5 separate regions of the Homo sapiens genome follow, and regions 1, 3, 4 and 5 are each linked to region 2. Evidence: fine-mapped expression QTL. A gene starts in region 2. Each other region holds a variant in brackets. All regions are shown on one strand. Distances are from middle to middle.

The links. PIP is the estimated chance that this variant, and not a neighbour inherited with it, causes the effect. A credible set is the group of variants that fine-mapping cannot tell apart.
Region 1: its variant is the best candidate, but not a certain one, in a credible set for the expression of PTPN4 in CD4 T cells (CEDAR, PIP 0.79).
Region 3: its variant is the best candidate, but not a certain one, in a credible set for the expression of PTPN4 in subcutaneous fat (TwinsUK, PIP 0.72).
Region 4: its variant is the best candidate, but not a certain one, in a credible set for the expression of PTPN4 in whole blood (INTERVAL, PIP 0.89).
Region 5: its variant is the best candidate, but not a certain one, in a credible set for the expression of PTPN4 in whole blood (INTERVAL, PIP 0.66).

What each region holds. Positions count from the first base shown.
Region 1 is chr2:119,735,246-119,741,574 of GRCh38, reverse strand. The region is part of intron 1 of LOC101927764 (a long non-coding RNA gene); the gene reads left to right. Among named protein-coding and RNA genes, the nearest start is that of PTPN4, 22 kb to the left of the region's middle. The variant T/C (reference allele first, on the strand shown) is at 2,632.
Region 2 is chr2:119,757,142-119,763,470 of GRCh38, reverse strand. PTPN4 (protein tyrosine phosphatase non-receptor type 4) reads right to left here and starts at 3,549. Exons shown (of 27, transcript NM_002830.4): 1 at 3,087-3,549. LOC101927764 (a long non-coding RNA gene) reads left to right here and starts at 3,757. Exons shown (of 4, transcript XR_007087215.1): 1 at 3,757-3,839. RefSeq lists enhancers at 2,693-3,317, 3,588-3,847, 3,564-3,858 and silencers at 3,048-3,347, 3,898-4,007.
Region 3 is chr2:119,427,088-119,432,771 of GRCh38, reverse strand. It overlaps TMEM37 (transmembrane protein 37), which reads right to left and starts at 918. Exons shown (of 2, transcript NM_183240.3): 1 at 848-918. The coding sequence starts at 868. RefSeq lists an enhancer at 1-483 and a silencer at 767-1,146. The variant C/A (reference allele first, on the strand shown) is at 2,593.
Region 4 is chr2:119,926,572-119,932,900 of GRCh38, reverse strand. It overlaps PTPN4 (protein tyrosine phosphatase non-receptor type 4), which reads right to left. Exons shown (of 27, transcript NM_002830.4): 13 at 6,235-6,303; 14 at 352-477. Among named protein-coding and RNA genes, the nearest start is that of EPB41L5, 83 kb to the left of the region's middle. The variant T/C (reference allele first, on the strand shown) is at 3,017.
Region 5 is chr2:119,919,617-119,925,945 of GRCh38, reverse strand. PTPN4 (protein tyrosine phosphatase non-receptor type 4) reads right to left here. Exons shown (of 27, transcript NM_002830.4): 12 at 5,705-5,877. Among named protein-coding and RNA genes, the nearest start is that of EPB41L5, 90 kb to the left of the region's middle. The variant A/G (reference allele first, on the strand shown) is at 3,304.

The DNA of each region.
Region 1 (6,329 bases), 22 kb after region 2:
ATCACCTGAGCCTGGGGGGTTGAGGCTGCAGTGAGCCATGATCACACCACTGCACTCCAGCCTGGGTGACAGGAGTGAGACCCTACCTCAAAACAATAATAATAATAATAATACTGTGTCATGGGATTCAAGTCTCCATAAGGGTCAATTGATATTCTCTTCTTGAAAACCTGTAGTAAATAAATCCCAAACCCAAGGTAACCATTTGGTAAATGAAACGTCTGTGCTTTCCTAGCTTCTCTGGGATTTGGGAGCACCTGAAGGGTTGCGATAGCTCCATCCATAGCCTACTCAACCACCATTATGTTGGCCCTTTCTTCTTGCTAACAGAACCCAGTGTTGTTGATGTGGCCATTTGCCCAGCACCACAGTACACACTGTGCTTGTTGTAAGACAATCAACACAATGTGGTTTCTCTTTGCCAGTGACTGGTCTAGGGGTGTGTGCGACCCAGTCCTAGCCAATGGGATGTTGGAGGACATTTTCTGAGGACTTCTTGAAAAGAATCCTCCCTCTTCCTCCCAATCACCTCATTCCCTCACTATAAAAAGAGAGAAAAGTGAGGAGAAAGCTTTTTTCCACCTATCCCTTTCCATTCTGTTTAGGGCATAAAAATAATTGTAAGGAAATTCAACAAAGTTCTTTTTCCAGCAATGATTCCCTTGATGCAGTCTTAGAAAAATCAATTTTAAAATTATTTCAGAAGCAAATTTTTAGGTGCTCTTGCTTTGCAGGTATCCTAAGCAGACATTTATTTAGCTTATTAGACACTCTAACGCTGACCTTGAGCAAATTTCTTAACTTGTATGAGCCTCAGTTTCCTCCTTGATAACCTGGGGAATGAGAATAGCTACCACATGGGCCTGTTGTGGGAACTGAGATGGGACGTGCAAAGTGCCTAGCATAGCAATGATAGTGCTTGACTCCTATTTTCCTGTGAGTTCTTTTTTTTCCTTTGAGATGGAGTCTCACTCTGTTGCCAGGCTAGAGTGCAGTGGCGCAATCTCAGCTCACTGCAACCTCCACCTCCTGGGTTCAAGTAATTCTCCTGCCTCAGCCTCCCAAGTAGCTGGGATTACAGGCATGCACCACCATGCCTGGCTAATTTTTTTGTATTTTTAGTAGAGACAGGGTTTCACCATATTGGCCAGGCTAGTCTTGAACTCCTGACCTCAGGTGATCCACCCACATCGGCCTCCCAAAGTGCTGGGATTATAGGCATGAGCCACCGCGCCCGGCCTTCCTGTGGGTTCTTTACACACACCCTCACTAGGAAAGACTAGGAATGGCCAGGGCTACCAGTAAATTACTGATAGCCAGTGACCTCCCCAAGGGACCCTAGAACCCAGGATCCCACTTTCCACACCTGCAGGTCACCCGTTGGCTGCCAGATCCATGTCAGGTTCCTTTGAGTTCAGCTGCAGCCTGCTGACTTGGGCACTTCCCCCAACAGCCTGCTTGGCTGACCACATCCCCCAGATGGTTCCAAACTGTCAGCCTTTTGAGCCCACAGACACGGTGCCCAGACCTTGTGTCCCCTCCCTGCACCAGTGCCTGTGGTGCCCAGTTTCTCCAGCCCTTGCCAGCCTGTTCCCAGCTTCTGGCCCTGCCTGCTGCATGGTCAGCAGAATTCTCCTGGGCCTCATCCTAGACCTGTGTTACAGCAGGTGACAGACAGTCAGTCCCACTCTCTAATAAGCCACAAAATAAACCTTGTGTCCAGAAGGCAACATCTACCTAATCTATACCCTTAGCTACTTTGCTGTCCCTTGAGGGAAGAGGACAGGTGCCTCTGTCTGACGTCTGTGTCTCTGTCTTTCATCCTCAGCTTAGAGACACAGTGCTGAGTAATGAGAGTTTGTGCTGGGGCTAAGACAACAACAAAAATCCCAGCTTCAGCACTTTATTACAGTGCTGAATTACTTAATTCAAGTGAGCTATTTAACCCTTTAAATCATTACAACATCAATAACAATAGCACCTAATATTTATTGGTTGCATATTTGTCTGCTAAATGCTTTGAGAGGCATTCTCTCAATCTTCTCTGTTACTATGAGAGAGGTTTCATTGTTCTCTCCACTTTAAAGAGGAGGGACCCGAGACACAGAGAGTTAAGTAACTTGCCTGAAGTCACTACTGCTGAGTAGAGGAGCTAGATTTGCCTGATTCTGGAGCCCAGACTCCCTGGGACTCAACTTCCTCATCTGTGAAATGTGGACATTAAAAATGACTTCACAGGACTGAGCAAGAATAAGAGACATCACTTCTACAGGGTCCCTACTAGATGCTCAGCAATGCTAGGGGAGCAATGCCCGGCTCCCCTAGCTATCATAGAGGACTCAACTTCCTCATCTGTGAAATGTGGACAGTAAAAATGACTTCACAGGACTGAGCAAGAATAAGAGACATCACTTCTACAGGGTCCCTACTAGATGCTTAGCAATGCTAGGGGAGCAATGCTCGGCTCCCCTAGCTATCCTAAAGGAGTCAACATGAGCCATTGAGATGTTGGCTCTCAGTAAAGATTTGTCCCCACGGCAGACATTTCCTAAGATGAACTGATTTGCAATGGGAATTGCAGCTGATGATCTGGAAGGCCTTCATCAGCCCTTCTGAAAGAGATCTTGCGGA[T/C]GCCAGCTCCTTTTCAACTCAGTACATGGAACATGCAGACACCAGCCCTGCTGCTGAGAACAATGTCTGTCAGAAACATGCTTTCCCTGAGAGGACAACCATTATTAGTGGGGTAGGACACAGACTCTTTTTTGAGACAGAGTCTTGCTCTGTTGCCCAGGCTGGAGTGCAGTGGCGCCATCTCAGCTCACTGCAAGCTCCGCCTCCCGGGTTCACACCATTCTGCTGCCTTAGCCTCCCGAGTAGCTGGGACTACAGGCGCCCACCACCATGCCCGGCTAATTTTTTGTATTTCTTAATAGAGACGGGGTTTCACAGTGTTAGCCAGGATGGTCTCGATCTCCTGACCTCGTGATCCGCCCGCCTGGGCCTCCCAAAGTGCTGGGATTACAGGTGTGAGCCACCGTGCCCTGCCAGGACACTGACTCTTTAGCCAGGTCTATGGGGATGAGGGGAATGTAGATACCAGTTGTGTGTGAAGCTCCTCAGAATTGACTCAAGTGTATCATTTAGAACTGTACAGAAAAATTACTTTTTTGAGAAAGACTCAAAATTACTAAAATGGAACTTCTTTCTTTCCAAAATGTGAGAGCAAAGTACTGTCAGACCGACCTCCACCCTGGTTTTCCCCACCCTCTCTTAACATCATTTAGAGGTTTGTTTTTTACTCTTCCTTCCCCCATTCATGTCTTTCCTGGCTCTTTTGGGAATAACGTAATTTGGAGTGGGATGTTTTTTCTTTCCCTTTTGGTCTGTGCAAGTGGTCTGCGGGTTTATTTTATTCCAGATGTTTCTCCCCAACCTGCCTTTTGAAAGAAACCCAGAATTATTTTTAAACAGAATTTGGAGGCTTCCAAATACAACAAATATTCAAACTGCCTGTGGGTTCCTACATTACAAGTCCTTGCTTTGTGGTGGGGAGAACAGAGGCTATGGAGCCAATGGTTCTGGGGACATAGGGGGCCTCGGAGGCCTGCTCCGTGGGCCTGAACTGCCTTCTCTTGCTTTCTCTTCTCCGCTTCCTGGGCATCAACCCAAGTGCCCTCTGGCTGCCCCCTGAGATGCCTACCTGAGGAACCCACTTCTATCCCAGGAAACACACTGCTTAGCTCTTCTGCTGAATTTTGCCAGCACCTCTTTCTCCCCAGAAGCTAACCTGACAGAGAGATTCATATTAAGATAACACCATAACACTTCATACATTACCTCCTTTCCCACTTCCTACATTACCAGGGACCCTCAATGCCTTGACCCGGTGGTTTTCAACTCTGGCCGCACACTAGAATCATCAGAAGAACTTACTGAGATATGGATGTTTGAGCCCCACCCACCCAGGTCTGAGGGCTAATGCTCTGGAAACTGGAAACCGGATTAAAAAAAATAGTTTCTACTTTTAATTATAAAGGTAACCTGTATTCATCGTTCTTGTTATTGCCATTAAGGTAAACATTACAGAAATGTTTTAAGCAAAAAGCAAAAATATCCCCTCCCTCCTTGATATTCCAGTCCTGCTCTTCAGGAGCAAACACTGTTAATGGTTTCATGTGTCTCCTTTTGGAAGTTGTCTATGTATTTTGCTAAATCATATATGTTTATTTTTTACACCTATGTGATCAAATTATCACACTTTTGCATCCCCAATGAACCTTGGAGAACTTTCCACATCACTACAAACTGAGCGATCTCATTCTCCCTGAGGCTTACATCACTTTGCTGCTGTGGGGGGCCACAGCTCTCTGATTGACTAGGAAGCTCAGGCTGCTGGGGAGGATCGGCTGGAGAGGAGGCCCCTTCACAGGGGAAGGTGGTCAGCTGTCTCTAACATCTCCCCTAACTTCCAGAGCCTCTTAAGAAAATGCATTTTGGAGAAGGAAAGCTTTTCCCTAAATTGTACTCAGAGTGTAGGCTGATTGTGTGAAAATGCCTCGATAGAAACTTTAGGTCTTCTGTTGAATTTCTTCAGCATCCCTTTTCCCTAGGGGCTAATGGGAATGACTGTCTATAAGCTAAAACCATAGCACTGAGATAACGCCACAGCCTATCACTCCTCCCAGGTGATACATGTACGACAGCCTGTGTAAACTGCAGAAAAACACATACTTTGAAGAAGAACTTCAAGTACATCCTGGCCCTCAAATGCTTTATTTAAGTATGGGCCTCAGGAACACTCTAGAGGACCTTGGGAGGAGAGGTTTACCTGGATAGTTCCCCAGTAGAAACACAGGAAAGAGTGGGTATATCTCAGGGTGATGGTTTTGAGAATGAATCAGTGACTTCACAGAGATGACAAGACTGGCATAACATGCAATTTGATTTCTTACTTAAACTAATGTCTAGTTTCCCACTGTGTAAGAGCGGTTCCCCTCTGACTTTTTGGACTGTGTTCACCACCCTTTTCCGAAGGGTGAAGGTAAAGAGAAAGCCTCCCTGTAGTCTGGCTCTGTCACTGCCTTGCATGTGATGTTTCCTAAGTCTTGCAACCTAACTGGGAACCAGTCTCCTTATCTAGGAAATGAGGCCAGTACAATAGATGATTTTCTTTTATAAAACCCAGGCGGGTCTGAAGGTCAGATGATTTTTAAGGTCCTTCCTGGCTTTAAAATTCTAGGTTTCATGACTATGACCACCCACAAACCATACAGGAATTTTTTTTTTAAGCCACAGCTGAATTTAGTTCTTTGGAAAAGAGGCGGTGGAATCGCATTACCCAGCTGGGTGCTTCCTATTTAATCTGCTGTTTTCCTGACTCGTGTAGCTCTTTTCCTCCCAAAGCTTTCTGTGAGCCTGTAGCTTGACAGCATCTAGCCTTGATGGTTTGAGCTTTCTTTTTTCCGTGATTACCACCACCCTGCCACCTATCTCACTAGGATATCATCCAATTTAATGCATTGTAATAATAATTATGTCTTATATGTACATAAGCTTTAACAGTGCACCAAGAACGGTATTTTAGAAAGCACATGGGTTTTTTAGCAAGACATTGTCAGAGTTTGAATTCTGCCTTGTAGCAGCTGCAAATTTGGTTGCAAACACAAACTGTTTCTGGTTAACTTTAGCAGAGAAGGAATTTACGTGAGGAGCAGTGGGAAGCGCATGGCATCATGGGGCCGCTGGGAGGCCTTGGCGGGGGCAAGACGTAGAGGAGGACAGGCACAGTCCAGAGGCCACCTTGAGAGCCACCGACTTGGGAGGGGCACTTGTCACTGCTGTTCACAGCCACCTCATCTAATCCCTAAATGACCATGTGCTTTGGCTTGTCTGCCTAAAGGGTGAAACCTTTAAGCAACTAGAGAGCGGAAAGCTTCCCCTTCAGCTTGGTTTCTGTACTGGGCAATGGAATCTTCTGTAGCGGGCAAATGGAACACTTACCCTGATGTTCCTCCCAAATAAGAAGTACTGTATATCCACAAGTGGACATCCAATACAAAGAAAAAGAACCTTGATGCTAACCTGACATCATATACAAAGATTAACTCAGGTTGGACCATAGACCTAAATATAAGATTGAAAACTGCACAACTTCTGCAAGAAAGCATAGAATAAGTATACCTAGATGCTAAGCAGCCAGAATGACCAATGTCCACCACAGGGTTCCACCACCTACTACTACTAGCTGTGTGACTTGGTCAAATGAGGACAATCCCTGTCTCCAGGCAGCTGGGTGGATCCAGTGGCAACCTGAATAAACCCCTCAGCCT
Region 2 (6,329 bases):
TTGGTGAGTGGGACAACATGAAAAGCCCCTTATACAGGATCTGACACTTAACAGACAATAAATATTAACACTCTTCCCCTCTGGGTCCTTTTTTCTTTCTACTACTCTATATAACCTCCTTGTTAAAAAATACAAACACAATAACCAACCCAAATTGATATTTTCCTCATGATAGTCTATACGATGTAATTTTCATTTTGTTCTTACTAATTAATTCAAATACTTGCATCTCTCTTCCAAAGTTTCTACTTAAGAATAATGAAATGAAGAATGAATGTGAGGGAAGATATCTCTAATGAAATGAAAGAGTCTAATAAATTTCCCCTCCTCTTTTTCCCCATTCATGCAAAAGATAAGAAATTATGCTGTTCCTAGACAATGGTACTTTCATATCAATAAAGAAGATTCTACGGTATTTCTACATTATATCCTATCTCATCATCTATACTACTCATTAAATATTAAATGAAGAGATAACACCTCCTTCCTACAGTGCTTTCCTGGCAAACAATAAAAAGGATTTTCAGAATGCTAAGCCAAACTTCAAGGCTTCACAGCTTATTCTAGTAAACTGGCAAATTTAACAAATCTGGATTATAGTACATAAAAAACTTCATAACATGCAATAACCCAGGAAAACAACAAAATTCAACTCAGTTAGTAAACTTCTACCAATAACTAAATTTTACATAGGAGCAACAATTCATATTTAGCCACAATAACCATTCCTAGGGAGTTGATCAATTTTGCATTCTAACTAAGAATTTAGGCAAAACTTTAAAACATTTGCCCCTAAACATACACCAAACAAGATTTCCACGTTTCTGGAAAACTTTTCTTGTTTAAAAGTGGCCATATTAACTCTCAAGCGGGGGGCAGAAGTACTCTCAATAACAAACCTCCTTGCAATTTTCTGCTAGTCTCTTACTTTGCTCCTTAAAGACAACTTACTAAAAACCATGATCACTGATCCCGCTTTTAGAGTTTGTAAGTCATAAATAAATACTAAACAGATAACAATGGATACTGTACTGTACACCTCAATTATGTTTAACAGACAAAACTATTTTAAAAATACAAATCACAGTTTAATAACAACCTAACGAAGTCATACAAGTTAAAAAAAAAAGCTGAAAAGTTTTTATTACCATCTCACGTAAATTGTATTACTATCCCACTTTATTATACTTTTTTTTTAAAGTTAGGCATCTATGCTCAAACTGATTAAATCGAGTATGAGAGATCTATACTTTTTTTAAAAGTCCTTCAACAATAATGAAGTGTACACTGGTCACAGAATAGTTCAAATGAAATTTCCTGAGGCTGCATTCTAAGTACATCCGACCCAGAAAGTATTTTTAGCAAGTACGTTCAATCAATGCTGGTTTTATGCCTAGCCTAAATTAGAAATTGGGTGTTATAAATTTAAAGTAACAATGTTACTAGGGACATTTTAAAAGATATTTAATTAGAACATAAGAAAAAAACACAAGTTTGACTCAATTCAATACCTACAGCTCTGAAGCTAAGATGTTAGAAAATGGGCAGTAAGAAAAATCACATCCTCGTCTATTACTACTTTTGAGGAACTCGTGATTTTCTAACTTAATAAACATGGACCTACTCAATTAATATTTTTAAAAACTACAAAATAGTGGTGCCTCCTTGGATTTTAAAAACCTCTTGCCAAATTTTTAAAACAGACTGGCAACATGACAAACATTCCCATGTACAAAATAGACTGTTTCTCTTATAAATCACTGAAGATTATGATACTATGGGACCGTGCGTGTTTCAATGCAAAATGTAACAAAGATATGTGTACCATAAAAAATGCGAAGAGACATAAAAATTGCTTTTGTGGTAATTGGAGCATAAATTTATTCTAACAAAAAAACAGTGATGTCCACAAAATGATCACACTTACGAGCTAGTGAAGAGGTTCTGTAGAATACACAAACTTCTGCTTACGAGTTTTTTCTTTAAAAGAAAGCTGAATTTATATTAGTCAAATTCAAGATTTAGATGATATACCTAGCTCTATTCCATTAAGCACAGTTTAGGCTCTGAACAATCCTTTATTTTAAGGCCATCTCCTTCCCCCTTAAAATTGAAAAAAAATTTTTTTCCTCTGGCACGTTAAAGTTCAGAAAACCAAGATTTAAAAATGCCCTGGCTTTTACTGTTCCAGTCTTCTTTCTACTCTAATTGTCTTTTGCAAGTCGGACACATTGGCCTTTTATCTTTCTCCATAAATATGTTTTAAATGTGACCAATCAGCTGTACTGTTTCAACTGGGCCCAAGATCTGGACACAGAAACTTAGTATTACTGAAACCTCTTATTCGAAAAGCAGCTGGCATATTGCAGATGCATAACAAGTTATCCTAGAACAGGCGTTTTGAAAAATCCTACAAATCGTCCTTGTACATACTGATGTCACTACATGATGCAAGCCCAGACATAAAATCTTCCACCCTAAGTTTTGCAGAAACATCCACACATCACCTGTGCAACTGTAAGCTGTTCCATTTTATGGAAACCCTGCGAAATGCATCACTGTTTACCCACATCTCAACTTTTTTTTTTTTTTTTTTTTTGGCTCAACTACAGATTCCCAAATACAGGTATATACTGGTAGAATCATAACAGGCTTAAAACTTCAATGGTAGGAATAGTTGGCTCATGCAGCGTGCAAGAAGCGCTCATATGAGCCAAAAAAAAAAAAAAAAAAAAAAGGAATTCTACCAGCAATGGAAAACTCAAGATTCCAAAGCTTTACCTAGAGTTTAGGTACTGGGAACATTCCATCTCCGCACCTATTCCATCCCTTGGCCCTTCGCTGACCCATAACAGAGATTCCAACTATAACCCCCGCAAAAGCAGAGGTCCCAGGAAGAAAGGAAAGAAAGCGTTTTTTTGTTTGTTTGTTTGTTTGTTTTTGTCCTTTTTTCCTTCCTTTCAAATCATCCTCGTACCTCCGGCTTGCCCCACCTGGCTCACCTCCCAGGAGCCACACATGCAGGTAAGAGCCTCCCGTTCAACGTGCAGGGCCGAGAGGCCGGCGGGGACCGGAGAACCTCTTACCTTCGTATATCACAGCCGCGTCCTCTCGGCTGGAGAAAAAAAGCCTCGAGGCCCCGGCGCGCAGAGGAGAAGCGCGTCCTCCGTGCCGCTCCGGGGGGCTACCTCAGCGCCCCCCGAGCAGCCGCCGCCGCAGCGGTCGCGCCACGACCCGGAGCCGCCAGCACCACCTCATGCTGCTGGGCAGCCGCGGGCCGGCGCCGCTGGGGAGGTGGCAGGGAGGCGGGCAGCCGGCGACCTCTCCTACCTCCCTGCAGGGATGAGATAATCCACACCCCCAAAAGTGCGTGGGGGAGGGGGCCTGGCCCCAATCCTCCGACCCCGCGGCCAAAGCCAAGTCTCTTTCCTCTCCCGCTCAGGCCCAATTCCGGCCCCTGGGACCCAGGAGTCCTGAGAGAACAATGTTGGTGGTGGGGCGCGAGGAGCGGAAAAGCGCACTGCGCGGCGTGAGCTGGCGGGTAATCCTGGGCAGCGTTTGTGTGTGAGAGTGCAAGAGGAGCTCAGTCACCCCCCTCCTTCTCCACCTCCTCTTCCTCCCCCTCCTCCTCCTCTATCTCTTCCTCCTCCCTCAAGCACACCCCCTCTCCTAGGCCGCAGCATAGCAACCGAACATGGCGGCTGCGCAGGCGCCGCCAGTCAGTGGCCAGGAGCGGCGGCGGCAGCAACAGGAGGCGATCTCGCGAGAGGCGAGGCCAAAACCCTGCCTCGCTAGCGCAGGGAGAAGTCGCACCAGTCGGAGCGCAGAGGGACACGCAGGTGCGAGAGAGAGCGGCCTAGGAGGATTGGGAGGGCGGATTGGAGGGGGGAGGCGGAGCGCTGTGGCCCCCGCCCCGCAGCCGCGTCGCGATTGGTTGTTTGGACTGCGACCCCTGCTGCACCCACTGACCGCAGGGACCGGATAGTGGGCAAGAAGCGTGTGTTAAAAGGGAAAACCAGACCAGTTGGCAGCAGGTCGCCCCAACCTCAGTGCTCCTGGAGGATATAGGTTTTGGGGGGCAGTTTTGAATCATTTCCTCTCCTAAACGTAGGCTCCAAAACAAAGCCTCAGCAACCAACCTGCGTTTATAAAACAAACGTTCGGGGGCTCCTTCTGTGTGCCTGGAACGGTGTGCTTTTTAAAATTTAATTCCTTCTAATAACATGAATTTGGTGTTATCACGCCAGGGTTTTTAGCCAGGTGCATTATAATATTTTATTGGTGATACAAACTTATTGGTAATACCACAGTTGCCTACTGGCGAATGATCTCAGCTGAAATGGAGGAAGAAGGGATTTGGGGACCGCCACACTTCCTTTTTGCCCAATTTTTGTTAGTGCCCTTTTCTGTCGCCAGGCGCCTTCTTTGTCCTTCCTTGCTCTTAGCTTGAGCATCCTATCAGAGCCTACCTTTATAAAGACGATCTTTCAAAAACCACTTTCCCAAGCCGACAAAATGACTACAAATCAGGGGAATGTGAACAAATCTGGAAAAGACAGAAATTTCTATTGACTCTCTTCTCCCTCACACCTGTTAGTTTTTCCATTTGAAAAAGGCAACTTGTCAATCCATGTTTCCAGCTTTACTTCCTTCACTTGCTTTTCTTCCCAGATCTCTGTTGTAGCCAGTGCTCATTCATTCCTCCCTAAATATGCATTCCTGCCTCTGACTCTCCATTTTGTCTTTGATCATGCCATTCCCTCTGCTAAAATGCTCTTCACCTCATTGTCATCTGTCAACATCCAGTCATCCTCCAACCAAAGATCATATGAGACTTCCACCAGAAATTGAATGTTTCATATAAATAGAATCATACAATATGTAATTTTTGTTTAGAGGCAAGGTCTCGCTATGTTGTCAGGCTGGTCTCCAACTCCTGGGCTCAAGAGATCATCTTACCTTAACCTTCGGAGTAGCTGGGATTACACATGTGAGCCACATGGCTTACATGTAGTCTTGTGTCTGGTGTTAAGCAAGACACAAAAGTTCCTGAGTGGAACTTCCCCTGCAAGTCACCAGGATGGACCCTTTGAAGTTACCAATACTCACCATTATTCCTTGAAAAATCTGAGTTCACCTTAAATCTACCTGCCTGCAACCCTGGAAAGAGAAGAAGCAATTATTGTCCTTAAAAAAAAGAGAGAGAGAGCTTTAGACTGTGCCCCAGGCTCACATGGGCCCACTGAAAATTGAATTGGGAAATAATAAATTAGTATATCTCACACTTTAATATACATGCTGATCACCTGGAGTTCTTATTAAATGGCATGGTCTAATCCATTAGGTCTAGAGTGGGCCCTGAAATTCTGCATTTCTTTCTTTTTTTTTTTTTTTCAATAGAGACAGGCTCTCACTGTGTTGCCCAGGCTGATCTTGAACCCTCCTGACCTCAAGCAATCTTCCTGCCTTGGCCTCCCAAAGTGCTAGGATCACAGGAGTGAGCCACTGCACCTGGCCTAGAGACTCTTTCTAACAAGCTCCCTGGCTTTTGGACCACCCTGGAGTAGCAGGGGTGTAGACTACTGTTCCTTAAACTGGAGTCTAAGAAAAAATATATGCAAATTATCTATAAAATATGTAAATATTTTGCTCTTACTTAAATTATGTTCTTTTAAAAGTTAATATATTCTAGTCACTATATTGGATCATTTGATGACCACCTTGTAACGAAACCCTGCACTTGATTTTGTATTTGGCACCAACCACAAATTTAATTTTCTGGGGCTAATGGGAAAAGAATAGAATACTTCTTGTGGAAAGGACAGCATTCTGGCTAAGTGAAGGTCATACGTCCTTTACGGCACACTGCACAGAAGTTTAACAGAAATTCAAATAGAGAAGAATGTTGAGATAATTAAGTCAATTATAAGCATGCCAAACAAAAAAGTACATACCATAGCAGTGAGTTCCATATTCTCATATCAAAGGACAATTTAATTTCAGCAAAACAACAAATATAATTCACCACACATTACATACATCATATTAATTGAATTTTTTAAATTTGTGAATTTAATTTCTAAAATTGTTTTAGTTTTATAGACGTGAGCTATAAGAATAAGAAATTATTACCTAAAGTTTATGTATAATTAAGAGACATAATTAAAATGACTTAACAGTTGGAAGTTAGCAAGAATTTTTTTTTTCATTCAAAAGTGGCCTCAAACATTACTGGATATTGGCAGACACTGCTATTGACTGTTTTTTTTTCCTTGTCTGCAGTCTGCCCTTGACTGTGCTTTGGGAGAGTAAGAGCAAAGGTTGTATCC
Region 3 (5,684 bases), 330 kb after region 2:
GGGCAGAACGGTGTCTACTAGGTCAGTGTTGTGGCTGAGCGTTTGTACACGAAGTCAACGGGCCTCTCTAATCCTGGAGACAGTCCAGCGGATAGACTCTGCAGCGGGCGAGTTGCGCGGAAAGGAAGTTCGCCCGCTGGGCAGCGGTACCGCCACCCACTGACTTCCCTTTGGGGAGCAGCAGGCCCGAGGGAGCGGGTAGGAATGTGTAGGTTCTTAGCCAACATAAACATCGTGCACTACGCTAAGGAGAAGCCAAATCTTCGGAGACACGGGCTTCTTCCCTCGCCAGAGCCTTTCCCTGAGGTGTCCGCGCGACTCAGCAAGTCCACCCCCAGCCCAGCACCCCAAACGCAGCTTTGGGGAGGGAGACGGTCTTCCTAACCTCCACCCCCAGAAAGGTCTAACTTCCCAAGAGACGCATCCTCTGTTACATAAGCCTCACTTTGCAAGTCGATTCTGTCCCTCCACCCCAGACGCGCCTCATTTCTCACAAAGGGGGACCCTTATGGTAAACTGACCAGTAAGTCACTGGTGACACCAAAGAGAAGAAAAATCTTTCCAAATGAAGTTTGGGAGCCTCGGGTGCTTGCAAGGCCGCGAGCAGAAGCAGCCGGAGTCCGCGCCTCGGGAGCAGCTATGTGAGGCAGGCAGGCCCCCCGAGGTTGCTCCCCGCCCAGCCTCCTCCGGACCCAGGTTTGCAACAGGGGGCGGGCACGGGGGGCGCTCGCACCCCCAGCCCGACGCCGGCGCTCGCGGTGGGTACGCCCCTCCCTCCGTCCTCCCACCCCCAACCTCCCACGGCGGGGCAGCACCCCGGGTCAGCGCCCCGCCAGGCGCCGGCTACCTGCACGCCGACGGCAGTCATGCTGCGCCCGGCGGCCGCGCTGCAGCCTCGATCGCTCCAGCTGCTCCGCTGTGGCCGCCGGCGCCAGCCCGGGACTTCTCCGCAGGGGCGGGGCGGCTGCTGGAGGCGGGCGGGGCGGGAGGGGGCGTTCAAAGCTCGGCGATTAACCCCGGGCGGGCTCCGCCAACCCCGCCGCCCTCCGCGGCTCGGATTACGCTGAGTCAGCGAGGGCGGCCGGAGGAGCCCCTGGGGAGCCGCGGGGAGGACCCGGCACTTGGGGGGAGGGATCCCTCGGGTCCCAGGGGAAAGGATCGGGAAGTCACTCCGACGCTCCCGAACCTCCGAGGACAGCTTCGCCTGGGGCGCAGATTCCTCGAGGGCTGGGACGGCGACGAGGGCCTGAGGGTTCGATTCCTGTTCCAGCTTGCTGAGTCCAGCCTCTGGGAACGCGGCAGGGTCCGAAGGGAGGAGGCAGGCGCAGAGGCTCTGCTGCCCTCACTCTGCGGTGTGACCTTGGGCTGCTTGTTTAGCGTCTCGGAGCCTCGGTTAGTAAGGGAAATAATGAATGTGAAAGGTGGGGCTCTTGCCGGGCCCTCGCTGAGTGTGAACGGAGTGGAACTTTTTGGGGCAATCCTACTTGCGTCCCTAAAAGGGGATGTAAAACCCTGTTTCCTCCTGAACTCCTCAGGGACTATTAAAAATGCAAATATGCCAAACAAATGTGGTTATTTTTTCTCCACCTCGATGGGAACTGAGGTCTCTCTTTTTTTTTTTCTGGACGTTGTCTAGCGCTTGTGGCCCAGGCTGGAGTGCAATGACGCGATCACGGCTCACTGCAACCTTCGCCTCCTGGGTTCAAACCCGTTCAAGCGATTCTCCTGCCTCAGCCTCCCGAGTAGCTGGGATTACAAGCGCGCCCCATCAAGCCCTGCTAATTTTTGTATTTTTTAGCAGAGACGGGGGTTTCACCATTTTGGTCAGGCTGGTCTCGAACTCCTGACCTCAGGTGATCCACCGATCTCGGCCTTCCAAAGTGCTAGGATTACAGGCATGAGCCACCGCATCCGGCCGGATCTGAGTTCTTAAAGAGGCAGCACCTAAAAGCTTTTACCGCCAAAAAGGGTGGAGGTGGGAGGAGTGTCCAAGGGCCACAAATTCCAACAGAAAGGCTTCCCTCCCCCCATCCTCAAATGTGGTGGTAAAACAAGGCCCCTCACTAAATGGCACACATTAAATTGTCTGGTTCACTCAGGCAGGCAGCTCCTGGTGACTTTACCCAAAGACAAAGCAACTGCACTCATCTGTTTTCCCCTTTAGAGCCATGTGAGAAAGAGGGGTAGTTACAATTGTCTGTATATCTTCCACTTAGATATTCATCTGATTCCATCCCTGCCCAACAGACCTTGTCAAATCCTTTACCCCAGTCCTGGAGCTTGACAAACGGAGAAATGGCCCAGGCACAGGAAGGCTTGGCCCAGGCCACCCACATTGAGTCCACTGGAGAGCTGGGACTCCACTTACCCAGCAGGCCTAGTCCAGGTTTGAGTTCTTGCCACCATTCTGCACCAGAGTCACCTGGAAGGTTTGTTAAAACAGATTGCGAGGCCCCACTGCAGAGTTTCTGGCTGAGTGGCCTCAAGTGATGTTGGTGCTGCTGGCCTGGGGGCCAGGCTTTGAGAACCACTGAGCTAAGGCAAAGGGCAGCTGCCCAGGCTCAGCCAGCCTGGTGCCTCTCTGCTCTGGGG[C/A]CTTCCCTCCGTGGCCCCCACCTGCTTTCTCCCCAGTCAAGGGTCCCAGAAGCCAGACTCTCCGCAGCTCTGGGTTCTGGATAAAGAGCCCACATGGGAAAGGAAGACCTGTCCTGTTGCGGGGGTATCCTTTCACTGAGCCCTAAGAATGCCCTGTGGGCTCTCCCAGGTGAGATTCTGGATCATAGCATCTCACCTGGCCAAGAGGGAAGTGCCTGGAATTAAAATCAGAAGAACAGTCAGGTCGGGTCATCTGCACCCACTGCCTTCTCCAGTTTCGTGTGTGGTCAGGCATGTTTCTCACAGCCTGTTACGCTTTGTTGGTAAGAATAGAAAAGTATTGAATCAGTAGAATTTAGAGCAACATGTCTTGTCAGCAAGATAGTTGGAGAAGCAGAAATGACTTAAGAATAATAAGGAGGAAGTGACTATCCAGTTCTGATCATCTTATGCTCACATGAGGACTGGGAATATGGCCAGAATTTGGGTGGAATCTGAGCTGAGACTCTAAGACCTGGAGTCTCCTGGTACCTCTCTGGCTTAGGGGGTTGGGGTGGTGCGGGGAGTGGCAGCATCCACAGCCCTCTCAAATCCTGGTGAGATAGCCAGAGGTATTGGGGTCAGAAGTCCCAAAGCATGGCGCTTTGACATACACAACTGAAAAAGCCTCAAGGTCTCTCTGACCTTCCCTCCCCTCACCGTCTCTCCCAAAACACAGGATGAAACTGAAGTTCCTTTATCTGCCTAACATCCAGACCCACCAAAAGGAACAATTGTGTTTCTTCTCCTCCCTGTAGGACTGAGAATGTGACCACACCCGGCAAGTTAATCTCTATTCCCTGATCCATTCGGCTAGCCCCTCTACAGAATTCGTCTTCTCTCCTCTCCCATCACCTGTTCTGCCAGGATAGTATAGAAGCTTCTGAGCACTGCTGAGGGGTGGGCATACTCCGTGATTCTCCCGGGGTGTACACCTTGAATTAATGTATATACCTTTTCTCCATTTAATGTGCCTTTTGTGAGTTTATTTTTCATTGAAACTTCAGAGGGTGAAGAAGCTTTCCCTTAAACCCTGCAGAGACAAATACCGCACCAGGAGAAGAATGTCCAGAGAAGCAGGGAGTTTTAGTGTGAGGGGAAACATGGCAGGGGCAGAGGTGGGGGTTGGATTACCGGGTGGACCCCCAGGTGTTAAAAGCAGAAACAGCATGGGCATGAGTACTGGGCTGTGGGACAGCATGGAGCCTGCCTATTCTTTGACTTTCTCTGCCCTTTGTCCAGATTGTGACAGACTCGGCACTTGACCCTCCCTGACCCCTGCTTCTAGGCCTGGCCAGGGCTGGGGAAAGAGGAATGGCTTAAAGAAAGGCAGGAAGTGGCTCCTTCCCACCCCTCTGACCACTCTTGCCTGATGAGGAAGATCCAGGCATGTTCCTTAGAGAGTTTCAAGTGTATTGGTAGGGACACAATTCCTGATCATTCAGTCAACAAGCACTAGATCTGTTGTTCAGTCAGCAAACACTCTTTCATCTCGGGGCCTTTGTACTTGCTGCTTCTTCTGCCTGAAATGTTCTTCCTCCAGATACTCCCATTTAAGACTCACCAGCTCACTTCTTTAAAGTCTGGGCTCAGATGTCACCTTATCAGAGAGGCCTACGACGACCCCCACATCTAAAACAGCCCCTCCATTCTCTTTTCTCTTCTGCCCACATACACATATTTACTTGTCCTCTCTCCCCCTTTTAATGTAAGCTCCAAGAGGCCAAGGGCATTGTCCTGTTCACCAGTGTATCGCTGGTGCCTACGACAGAGCCAGGCATGTAGTAGGTTCTCAATAAATATTCATTGACTAAATGAATGAAGTGATTGAATACCTACTATGTAGTCACAACTGTCCTGACCAATGAGGGACAAAGAAGAAAAAGACAAAGTCCCTGTCAATGGTAAAGTGCTTGAGTTTTAGAGTCCAAACCTACCTCTCCATTTCTGCTCTCTCCCAGGCCTCGGTAGTTCAGGCTCCACATCCTCCTGCTCTCTTTGCCCTCACGCCCTCCATATACTCCATCCTCTCCTCTCTGCCCCTCCAGTGCCTGCCCGGCTTCAGCCCACCCCAGATCCCCTCCTCTCTAGCCTGGATGCCTGTGGAACAGCCTTCACTCTCACTTCCTCTGTCCCTTCAAGCATCTTCCCATCCCTCTTTTCCAAGGCTCAGGAAGCTTTGGTTCCTGGCCCCCCAGCCCCCGACCTTCCTGCCAAGACCTTCCCCTGGGTGTCTGCAGGGCCTTTTCAGGGGCATCTCCTGACTTTCCCAGCCAGAGTAACACTCCACCCCCCACTTGCCACTCTTTTACCTTTGTAAATTCTTGATCACTAGCTGAAAGTGGCTATTTGTCTATTTCCTGGATTGTCCCTTTCCCTCTCTAAAATATCATGGGCTCCATGAGAGCTGGGACTTTTTCCCTCTTTCACCACTCCATGCCCAGTCCCTAAATACAGGTTGGTCAATAAGGTTTGCTTACAGAAGAACCAGGCTTCTAATGCATTCTGAGCAAATACTTCCCCTCTGTGCTCCTCACTTTTCTGTCAAATGGGAAGCATCTCCCTCCTGGTGTTGAGAGGATCCCATGAAGCAATGAATGTGCATAAGGTGTCAGGTGCACCATCCCGGCTGGCATATGCATAAGTCTAAATAACTCATGATCTTTACCATCCAGTTTCCAGGGGGCTCTAAGTTTGCGCGGTCCCTGCTCCCAGGGAAACTTAGATCTGAGAGGCGACTCCCCTGTGCGGAGATTTAGTCTTGGGGGTAGTTCCCAGTGCTGGAAGTTTCTCTTTTGAGGAGTTGGAAGGTGGGAGGGACGAGGTGGGGCAGACACACTCCAAACACCCAGAGGTAATAGCAGGGAGTTGGCAAGGAGCAGCCCCTTGAAGCTCACTGGGTAGCTTTAAAGCTGCATGGTGCCAGGATGACCCACCCTCCCTGCCGCCCGTGCCTTGTACTTCTGACCTCTCCAGGTCTTGCCTTGTCTGTGGCCCATGGCCTCTTCCCTCTCCTCTCCTCCTGCTGCCCCGCCTTTACCAACCAGGTCTTC
Region 4 (6,329 bases), 170 kb before region 2:
TGCTGGGAATCCACATGAAAAATGAGTATGTCAACAACAACCATACAAGATTTTAAGTCTAACAGATCTTCATTTATCAGGGACTCTTAACTGCGAAAGTTAACTGTTGAGGAGAGTGAGAGTGGAGGGTCCTTATTCAATGCGCTACTCTCATTCCGCAAGTCTATACCATGTTACTTCTGCAAAGAGCAGCAGGCAAAGAGAAAATAATGCTCTGGAGCAACAAAAATCATGTTTCACCAAAAGAATTCAATTTTTGCGTATCTTTGTCTTCAGGCATAAAAATATACAGCCAATAATTAGAAATTAGCAAAATTCACACCTGATGTTGGTCACAAAATTCACACTTACTGATTAGGAGTTCCCGGTGGAGATCGTGATGGAAGACTTTGTGTTTCTAACCTGTCATCAGATATTGAATTTCTGCTTACTACTTCCCAATCCATTAATTTCCGTGCCAAGGGCTTACTTGGGGATCTGCAGAAATAAATTAAATAATATGTTAAAAGTTTTATTTTTATACCCCAAACCATGAATCAAATCCTACAATTTGTTTTCAGAGATTATGTTCTAGATGAGCAACATAAAGAGTTTACTTGTAAAAAATTAATGCATTTAGAGGCTATTTACCAAATAACTTCCTAAGAATGTACATTGGCTTTATATGAAGAATAAAGGTAAGACAGGCTAGGAAGAGTAAGATAGACAATAAGAAGGATGAGAAAAACAGAAGAAACAAGAAAAGGAAGGACAAAGGTAAAAAGGGAAGGGTTTGCTACCAAATGTTTTCTCAGATGTTACTGACAAGACAGATACTACCTACTTCTATTCCAGAGTATCTGGAACACTAGCTTATCTTGGGATGTATTAAATAACTCCTCGCACATTATCTCCTGAATGCTTCTATAACTAAATCCCAATCCTCTGCCTCAATGAAGACAGAACAAAAATAATTATGCATATTACATTTTATCTACTTAAAAAATTGTTTACATATAGTAGGTTAGTGGATTTTTCCCTTTTTTCCAAAAACATTTTGGAGGGTTAATAATTCTGTCTATTGGTGGGGAGTAAAAGGATATGTTTTGTTACCAATCTATATATTATCAGCTATCCTAATGATAAAGATGAAAACTAAGTGATGTTTTAAAAAAAGATCTTGGATGCGCGAGGTGGCTCAGTGCTGCAATCCCAGCACTTTGGGAGGCCCAGGTGGGAGGATCACTGGAACTTAGGAATTCAAGACCAGCTTGGGCAACATAAGGAGACTCTGTCTCTACAAAAAATAAATTAGCTGGGTATGATGGCAAGTGCCTGTAGTCCAAGCTACTTGGGAGGCTGAAGTCAGAGGATCAACTTGAGTCCAGGAATTTGAGACTGCAGTGAGCTGTGATAGCACCACTGCATTCCAACCTGGGTGACAAGAGTAAAACCCTGTCTCAAAAAAAAAAAAAAAAAAAAAAAAAAGAAAGAAAGAAAGAAAGATCTTCATATTGATTCATTCAGATCAAAAGATACTGATCTATGCAGAGATCATAAACCCTTAGAATTTTAGGAATGTTAACAAATAAAGTATTTTTTATATGCAAATTCAGATAATAGACAAAATTAGCTGAAAATATATGTTATTTCTTTAAATGCCTGGCTTTATGAAGTGCAGAGTTAATGTGGAGGCGAATAATTTAAGCTACATATATAAAGTATATAATAAATCATCTTGTAAACAGTTTTATATTTCAGTAATTAACTGAAGCATATAAAAACTATATGTATTTTCCATTCCAGCACAATTTACAAAAAATGAAACATCCTGTTGTCTTCCTACAAAAATCAGATCATAAAAATTTAGGTAGAAATACCTATTTGAGTAAAATTTAAAAATGAAGACTATTTTTGGTTATAGTTAATAAGAATCATAGGCCTTTGTTGTGTGACTTTGGATTTATTTTCAGATTTTCTTATATTGATAAAGAATTGCAGGTAGTATTGGACTTGCTTTTTTAGCTCATTGGGATATTTTTCTCTCATCATGTACTATGTATACACTTCTGTATGGCTAAAAAAAAAAAAACAATTACCAAGGAAGGCACAAAGCAAATGCAATATTAACTCATCTGATTACATTAAAACTTAATAACATTAGAATTCTGATACATAATGATCTCATGAAGTTTGAAGTTTCACTGCCTGCTAGAATTTCCTTTCCAATATGTTAAACGTGTAAAAAGAAATGTCGGACTAACACGCACAATAACACTGACCAAAGAGAACTGAACAAATTGTTATTATGTGTACAGTAGGAAGCATTAAAATAATGATAAGGACTCTGAATTCTAGATGTGGCTTCCTATTAGACAGACCTCTTATGTTTCTGTATCTAAATGTATAAATTTATTAGCATAATATGACCCATAGGTCTCTCCCTACCTCCTGAATTTTATGATTTATGAATATCCAAATTTTCAGGGCAATATTTTAGCCTATTAATTTTACTAAACCACGAAAAATTTAAGTTACTTATGAATCTACACCACAGAAGTGTCCTGTCATTTCAGCAATTCATAGCTAAAACTTTTTTAGTTTGGCCTAATGACATTTCCTTAATCAAAAATCTTGTAGGCATTTTATAAGACATGGAATGTTATTAGTTTTAAAAAAGATACATTGACTCAGATTTCATTTTCCGTAAGTGAATTCAAAGTAATTTAGGTGTGAACATTTCCCATTATCACAGGTTTAAATTATAGGATTTTTTGATTTGAAGACAACTCATGACACCGTTTAGTTCAACTCCCTCATATTGCAGTGCAAATTTTCTTATCAGTCACAACAGAATGAAAATAAAGTATATTACCTCATGCATAAAACTTTGATTTTTAAAATAAAGATTAACATTTATGGCTCTATTAATGCTAATTCATAATGTAATAAACTATTATTTCCTCAAATATTAAACTACGAAATGTAAGCTGTATGAAAGTTCACTAACTGTAATCAATAGATCAACTACTTTCAT[T/C]TTCTAAAAGCTGGAAAAAGTCATTTGAAGAAAAAAAATTCCAGCACACTCACCTAGTCTGAAGCGTCAGAACACTTTATTGCTGTTAATGGACTAAACATGGCTGGACACTTTGAACTTAAAACCAAACTTCATGTATTTTATTTTATTAACAGTTTTAACCTCAGGGACCCACCCACTCAAGCTTGCTGTCTATGTTTCCTGTTGAGTGTGGAAATTTCAGAGAAAAAAATACCACACAGCATCAGTGTGTTTGCGATGTGGTAAGCTTCTTTTCTGTCTAGGGCACCTTATTTTTCTGTTGTATGAGAACATTGTTTTTCTCTTTTCTTAGATATATTATATGACAACTGCAAAATGTGAAAGCAATTTGAAGAGGTGATAATCAGTATATGTGCTGCTGAGGCGAACACAAAGAGGTGATAATCAGAAAAAAGAAAAAACATTTAATGATTGCTAAAAAATTATTATATGAGAAGTTTAAGGAGGAGCCTTTTCTATCTACTCATATTGCCAACTAAAACCCAAAGAAAAAAAAAGAACTCTAGGTTATCTGGTACTTTAATAAAATAACTTAATAATTACTAAAACCATTAGAGAATTTTGGTAGACATATATCTGTTCATTACAATTAGATCCTAACATATTAGAAAAACAATCCCAGAAAAGCTTATCTTTCAGAGAAAGAGAGATCATTAAACAGCCCAGTACTATTACAACCTCATTGTAGCTGATACCTTATTATTTCAGAGGAACCACACAATTCCAGAAAAACAAAAGGAAGAGAGTTATCTGAGGCTTATAATATTGAAATTTTACCTCTACTATTCACGGAATCATGGCTATTTGTTTTATAAAATAACCTATTAAACAACTATACATTTTAATAATGAATACACAAAATGAACAACTAAGATGCAGGTATAACTCTGCTTATTTCTAAAATCTGATAGGATCAAAACATGAAAACATTAACACTTATAAAGAAACCATTTGTATGTGATATTAACTTAATACATAAATATGCCTACGATCTGGTACTCGTATGAGGATATGCTGCATACAACTAGTGACCACATCGCACGTTCTACACTGTTTATAAAAGTCAAGCAGAAAGAAGACACTTGTTAAGAAAGGAAAGTTTTAAGTATATTGCTACGCTGTTACAACACTAAGAATCAGAAAAATATTTTAAGAAATGTTATTCGTTTTTTAAAAAATACATGGACTCATTTCATTTTCCATAAGTGAATTCAAAGTAATTTAGGTGTGAAGATTTTCCATTATCACAGGTTTAAATTATAGGATTTTTTGATTAGAAGACAACTCATGACACCGTTTGGTCCAACCCCCTCATATTGCAGTGCAAATTTTCCTATCAGTCACAACAGAATGAAAATAAAGTATATTATCTCATGCATTTGATTTTTAAAATAAAGATTAACTTACCATTTATGGCTCTTCTATTAATGTTAATTCATAATGTAATAAACTATTATTTCCTCATATAGTAGACTACTAAATGTAAGCTGTATGTCACATATTACTGTGACATCCTTACAAAGTCTTAGCAACAACTCCTACTCTGGAGGCAGGGACGTGGCTCAGTAAAGGGAGGAATCCTAAAAGTTAAGTTTACAGTTTACAATCAAAGAATTTAACTGTTAAAAGATTTATTGCCATTATAAATGACTAGATTTTTGAACAGCAAAGAAAATGTGCACGATATGCTAGATGATAAAAACAAACAACAAATAGTTTAAAACAATTTGGAAACAAATATACACACATATATAAAAATGTCTCTATGAGTATATGCATAGAAAAATCCTGAATAATGAGTATCAAAATTTTTTTAAAAAGTTGTCTTGGGATGATAAATTTTCTTTATGCTCTTTGATACTGTTGGAGTTTTTAAACATAATGAGCTATCACTTATATTACTAGGGGAAAAAAGCAATTTCCACTTTTGGAAGGAGGAAGAAAAAAACCAAGAACACAAAACTCCCTTTACTCCAGAAACACAAAGAAGGAAGGTCTCTTAGATAAAGACTTAAGAACAAAATTTAAACAAAGTGAAATCAAAAGCAAACTTTCTAGTTCTCTTTATTAAAACTCAAGCCTCTAATAGCAGTAGATGCCAAACACATAACTAATTAAAAGACTTAGCCTCTCAAAGTAATTTTCACTGAAAACAAACTCTTGTCTCTAACACACCTGTATCCAGTTGGTCATCAGCTTCTGCTAGTTCTGCCTACAAAACGTTCCTTAAATTTGTTCCCTATTTTCCATTCCATTACCAATGTTTTTGTTCAGGCCTTTATTATTTTCACTTGGATTACTGCAATTACCTTATAGTTTCTGGGTACCGAGGCTTTCCTCGCTAATCCATTCTCTATCATTGCTCATAATACTATTTTCTAAAACATAGATCTTATCATGTCATTTCACTTGTTAAAAAGCAAATTGGCTAGGTCGGGAGTGGTGGCTCATGCCTGTAATGCCAGCACTTTGGGAGGCCAAGGTGGGGGGGATCACCTGAGGTCACGAGTTCGAGACTAGCCTGGCTGACATGGTAAACCCCATCTCTACTAAAAATACAAAAATATTAGCCAGGTGTGGTGGCATGCGTAATCCCAGCTACTAGGGAGGCTGAGGCAGGAGAATCACTTGAACCCAGAAGGCAGAGGTTGCAGTGAGCTGAAATTGCACCACTGCACTCCAGCCTGGATGACAGGGTAAGACTCCGTCTCAAAAAAAAAAAAAAAAAAGCAAATTGGCTATGACAGACCCTAAAGAAATAAAGACAATAAATGGTAAACAAAAACAAAAAATAAAACAACTTATCTCTTAACATTATAATTTAAATAAATATGGAAATGGCTTGATAACATGAAATAAGTCACTATATTTCTCAAAAATGTTTAAAAAAGTGGAGCAACCTCGAACAGAATATTATATTAATAACATAATATTTGATCAGCCTATTCAGAACTGCAATGCCTGGCACACTATTAATATAAAAAATGAATCAATAAACTAGACAAGCTAGTTTATCATTCCCTCAACATTATTTACTGTTAAAGAATTGTGATAATTCTGTAATCAAAAATTTGAAATATTTAGAAAAACTTTAGAAAAAATATTTAGAAAAACTTTTTAGTAAACTCAATCCATCTTTTTAAAAAAATTCAAACAATGAAACAGATTTGGCTTACCTTGCAAATACCCTGTCTTTATTTGCCTTTTCTTTGCCATACTGAACTGATTGGACTTCAGTTCTCCCACTGAAATATATAAATATGCACAACAA
Region 5 (6,329 bases), 160 kb before region 2:
GACTTTTAAACTTCAAGTTGAATTTTCCTAAGAAAATATTTCCTCTAAGAGGGAGGTAATAAATTAAAGTTCATCACTGTTTTGTATTTCCACATTAGAATAATGATGTTAATCCTCTGGATACTTTGGAACAGAGATAAGGATATGTACATGAAGAGACTGGTGGAGAAAGTAATAGATCTGATAGTCCCAGTACCATCTGTCAGTCAAAAGAGTATTTCAACATTTTAAGTATGACAACAGTTCCAGTATTCTCCACCACTGCTTATTATGAAGGGAAAAAAAGTTTATTTAGTGCATACTCATTAGGGACAGGACTGTGTCCAGTTAACATTTTTACTTCATTTCCTACTTCATTCCTACTTCATTTACAAGATGTCTAACCACTTGGATGATTAAAAAGTGCTTTGGATAAGTTTTAAAGTTCTCCCATTCCTACTTCATTTACAAGATGTCTAACCACTTTGATGATTAAAAAGTGCTTTGGATATGTTTTAAAGTTCTTAAGGACTACAAACGCAAAGCTTAACTTTTTAAAACTATAAATATACACAATTATGTATATACAATTTAATGTGCGAGCTGTCATAGGCCCAGTCCTGTCCTGTGCCCTATGTTTTGCAGGGGCTATGATAAACAAATTCCATTTTCTAGATTATTTTGCCTTAGGTTCTGCTTTTAGAAGGTACTGGTGGAAGATCAGAAAGTGGAGAAAGGCAGAGCAGGAAACTGGCAGCTGCTGGCAGCTGCTTTAATAGTCATGGGGATAGGGTATAGTGAGAAAGAGCATCCTGTAGATGGTCCCATCCTTGATTAAAGCAGTACTTCTCTGCAAGATGCAGACTGATTTTTCTTCACTGGAAAATTAATGTATCAGTCAGAGTTCAGTCAGGGAAACAGAGCTCTAACAGTGTAGTAGCAGGTGTAGTTTGTGGACTCCAGCCCAGGGAGTCCTGAATGCATCTGAATTTTAGGCATTACCCCTTCTTCTTGTTTTTTTCTCCATAACCATGTTTCCACCCTTTTGTTTTCCCAGCATTTCCAACAACCATGTAACTAATTTCCTCAATTAAATTGCTTTTGTTTGAAATACCAAAAGGGCTTTCTGCTTCCCTGACTGAACTCTGACTGATACCTTAATTTTCCAGTGAAGAAGATTCAAATGGGATACTATTACTCAAAAGGCTGGAGTAACAAGTTAAATTTCATAATAAAGAAACAATTTTTTTTAAAATTAATGAAAGAAAGGCTTATATTTCATATTGTCCATAATACAGACATTAGGGATTTAGTATTATCATTACAACAAAATGAAAAACTGTTCCAGTTTCAGAACACTAAACTTTCACAGTAAGATACTTATCTTTTGAGCAATGAGAAAGTTCTCTCTCTTTCTCTCTCTCTTTATATATAGGCTTATTATAAGTTATTCAAGCAACATAGAAAAATATAAAAAGAACAAAAAAATTGTTTTTACCCACAGTCCTATCCATAAAGAAATCATCACCATTATGAGCAGGTAAAAATCATTCTGAAATTCATGTATATAAACATTAAAAAGGCTAGACATACAGGCACAATAATTTTATTACAATGAAACTATGGTATATATGCCACTTTTAACGAAAAAAATTAAACTGGTTTCCAGTGAAATAAAAGATAAAAAAGACTGCCATTCATATTAAAAAAAAGGAAAAAAGATGAAGAAAACCTTAAGAACTGCTGTGTTAATGTCTAAAATTGTTTCAAACTTTAAGGATTCAAATACTTCCTCCCACTAGTCCCTTGCTTTTTTTTTTTTTTTTTTTTGAGACGGAGTCTCACTCTGTCGCCCAGGCTGGAGTGCAGTGGCTCCATCTCGGCTCACTGCAAGCTCTGCCTCCTGGGTTCACGCCATTCTTCTGCCTCAGCCTCCCGAGTAACTGGGACTACAGGTGCCCACCACTACGCCCGGCTAATTTTTTGTATTTTTAGTAGAGACAGGGTTTCACCGCATTAGCCAAGATGGTCTCGATCTGCTGACCTCGTGATCCGCCCGCCTCGACCTCCCAAAGTGCTGGGATTACAGGCGTGAGCCACCGTGCCCAGCCTCATTTTTTTAAAGTTATATTACTTATTCTACTTTGGCAAAGTTTATACCATTTAAATTTTATTCTGCAGTTATAATTCTCACGGTTGTCAAGAATTGTTTCTATATAGAGAGGATTTAATCTTCACTCTCAGGGCTTTTTATATAAAAATAACTTTTTATACCTGATAAAAAGTTATTTTTTTATACCTGATAAAAAGTTATTTTTTTAATCAGGATTATTCTGATTTATCTCCTGGTTTGCTGAATTTTACTACTTAATAAATGTTTTCAGGAAGGTCCTGGAGATGTTATATTCTCTGAGTTTTTGCATATTGGATAATGTCTATATGTTGACTTTGGACTTGAATGGCAATGTGATCATGTTTAATATTTTTTGGTCATGTTTTTGTCTTTAGGACTTGGTTGACAAAGGATGGCCCACAAGTAACATAAGCCTGAAGATACAAGTTTTATTTGGAATACATACTGTTTGTTGTTGTTTAGAGACAGGGTCTTGCTCTGTCACCCAGGCTGAAGTGCAGTGGCCTGATCATAGTCCTGTAACTTTTAACTCCTGGCCTCAAGTGATCCTCCTCCCTGAGCCTCCTGAGTAGTTAGGACTACAGGTGTGTGCCAAAAGCCCAGCTAGTTTTTAAACTTTTGGTAGAGACAGGGGTCTGCCTATGTTGCCCAGGCTGGACTTGAACTCCTGGCCTCAAACAATCCTCCCACCTTGGTCTCCCACAACACTGAGATTACAGGCCCCCATGCCTGGCCTACATTATTTTAAAATATTTAATTCAAACTGATAAACCACTAGCAGACTAATCAAGGAAAAAAGAAGACACAAGTTACCAAGAATGAGAGAAGCAACATTATTACATATTCTAGAGAGATTAAAAAGAAATGGGGAATATTATAAACTCTGTGCCAATAAATTCAACAACCTAGATGAAATGGATAAATTTGCTGACAGACAGAAACTACCATATCTTGCTCAGGAAGAAAGACAAAACCTTAATTGCCTTATCTATTAAAGAATTTGAATGTTCAAAACCTTCCTATAAGTAAGACTTCTGCCCCAGATGAATTAATTTGCAAATTCTATGAAACATTTAAAAATGAGATAATATTATTACTATGCAGCCTCTTCCAGAAAATGGAACTTTCTCAACACATTCATGATTCCAATTTGACCCTGACACAATAAAATCTGAAAATGATATCGTACG[A/G]AAGAAAACTACAGAGATATATCCCTCATAAACACATATGCAAAAATCCTAAACAAAATTTAGCAAAGTGAATCAAACAATATATATAAAGGATATCATGGCTAAGTGGGGTTTATCCTAGGAATGTAGGGCTGGCTTAACACTTGAAATGCAATCAAAGTAATTCATCATACTAACATCAGATTTTAAAGTTTGAATATGATCATTTCTTATGTGTCAATTATACTTCAATAAAGCTGTTAAAATAATTGTTCAACTTTCTAAAATGTACATATCCCATTTAATAGTCCTTAATCCCAGTTTTGTCGAAAAACATGTAAAATTTGTCAATACTAGGCCAATCTTCCCCAAGGGCAGTAACAGCCTTCTGAATGGCAGGTGTTGCTCCCTTCCCGGCCGATCTTTTTTTTTTTTTTTTTTTTTTAAATCAGATTGTCCTTGAACTTGCTTTTATTAATATTTATGGTACAAATTTCCTTCTGTTTCAGTGATGATTTCCTCCCAAACAGGTTTCTTCAACTGTCTTTTGTATTTGAAGTCACCGTATGTAAATTTTATGTTTGCTTTGGTATGGTTTGGGTAACTTCCTTGACTTTCTTTTCTCATCTTGTCTGAGACTTGCTTGAATTATAGTTGAAGACTGGTTATTGGTCCTACTCATTTCTTTGTACCTAAATTAAATGGTGTGTGTTTATGTCACATTTGCAAGGACAAAGAGGAGAAAAAAGAATTTGAACAGAGGGTAAGAGTAGTCCTTGTATAACTACCCTGGTAACCAATCAGAAATTAAATTCATTGAAAGAATATCTTTAGGGTTTGTACTGTTCTCATTTCACATAAAGCCGTGGAGATTTCTTCTGTCCTTGCTGAGATTTATTAACAGTAGGTAAGGCTCTTTGCTTTTTCCTTGACTTTCATTATAGATCTGATACTCTCTCCTTCCATCTATTTGCTTTTAAATTTGCAAGTACTGTCATCTTACTTTACTCAAAATTGCTTTTAGGAAGGCAAAAAAAAAAAAAGGAGTTAAACGTGACAGCAAACTGCTTAGGAAATTACTGTGCCTTTTGTTTGGTTAAAAATATTCTAATTCTGTTTAATTGTTACTACTGAACTTTTGAGCCACTTTTACTAATTTTTCTGGGGTGGGAGTCATGTATTTCAAGTGACATATCCTGTACTAAGCTTCATACTGTTATTTTTACGGAGATTACAAATTAGGCAATTATACATGTTTAGGTTTACAATTTAAATCTTTTCTGGGAACATCTAAACATTTTTCTCATGAACATATAACATGAATTAATCTTAACACATAATGGTCAAGGGTTTTTCATTTTATTTTATTTTTATTTTTGAGATGGAGTCTTGCTCTGTCACCCAGGCTGGAGTGCAATGGCGAGATGTCGGCTCATGAAACCCCTGCCTCCTGGGTTCAAGCAATTCTCGTGCCTCAGCCTCCCAAGTAGCTGGGATTACAAGCGCCCACCACCACAGCCAGCTAATTTTTTGTTTTTTGTTTTTGGTAGAGACGGGGTTTCACCATGTTGGCCAGGCTGGTCTTGAACTCCTGACCTCTGGTGATCCGCCTGCCTCGGCCTCCCAAAGAGCTGGGATTACAGGTGTGAGCCATTGCGACTGGCCAAGGGTTTTATTTATCAAAGATGAAAAATCTTATTATGTGAAGCATAAACAAACAAGAATGAATAACATTTGTTTTACTAAAAGATAATGAATAACTTTCTACATGATTCTTACCAGGTTCCACTTAAAAACTAGCTTGCATGGGTCTTTTAAGAATTCCAAAGGTAAAACTAATCAGAGCTTCTTCAGATTTAGTTATTCCCCAAAGATTTGTTGCCGTCAGGAAAAAATAAAAGCTATCAAGAATAAAACAATTTTAGGAAATGGAACCTGGGGTTACTGTTCAATGACTAAATCTGATTTTGCCTCGTGACTGTTTTAAACACTTTACAATAAAGGGTTTGACAACCCAAAAATATGCTAAATTCTAAATTAAAAAACAATAATTATATAGTTTTAGGCATAAGATACCTTGGGTGTCTTAGAACAAAGAAAAGTTTTCAAGCAAATATCTAATAAAGACACAATAGAAATTATGTCATCTGTCTTTATTGTAAATAAGTAAATGTAGTTAATTTACTCCAGAAAATAATGACAGCAAATACAGAACACAGAACTGGTTTCTCAAGCCTGTAGCATATCACAAGAACCTATAGAACTTTTTAATGATACTGATATAGAGGCTGCAATCCATAGGGATTTTTGACTCAGTTAAGTTTGTGTAACAAAGGTTGTATGGTTCCATAAACTACATCTTTATTTTAAAGAAAGGAAACAAAATCCAACAATAAAGCCTTAACACAGAAGCAATACTTACCAGTACCGGAATTTTGAACCTAATGTAAAATAATGTGCAAAAAAATTCTTTTGAGGTGGAAGTGGTCTGTCCAAACGGAAGAATGTGTGATGTTCTACACATGCTTTCCACAAATTTTTACATGCTCTGTAATTCACCATATTAAATCCCAATAATGTTTCTCTAGATTCATGCTGTAATAAATGACAAAATGCAGAGAATACCAGGAAAATGTCAGGATCTAATGCTCCATTTAATTTACTTTTGACAGATAAATTATTCTAGCCTTGTAAACATGAACTTGTTAATGATATAGATAGAACCTATGGGATCTTTTATCTAGGATCTTTTTTGCTTATCCAATAAAAAGGCAATGAAGTATATGCAAAAGCCTGAAAAATCTGGACCTAACTCAGTCTTTTTTTTTTTTTTTTTTTTTGAGACACAGTCTCACTCTGTCATCCATGCTGGAGTGCAGTGGCACGATCTTGGCTCACTGCAACCTCCACCTCATGGGTTCAAGTGATTCTTGTGCCTCAGCCTCCCGAGCAGCAGGAATTAAAGGCATGCACCACCACACCCAGCTAACTTTTTCTATGTTTAGTAGAGACGGGGTTTCACCATGGTGGCCAGGCTGGTCTTGAAC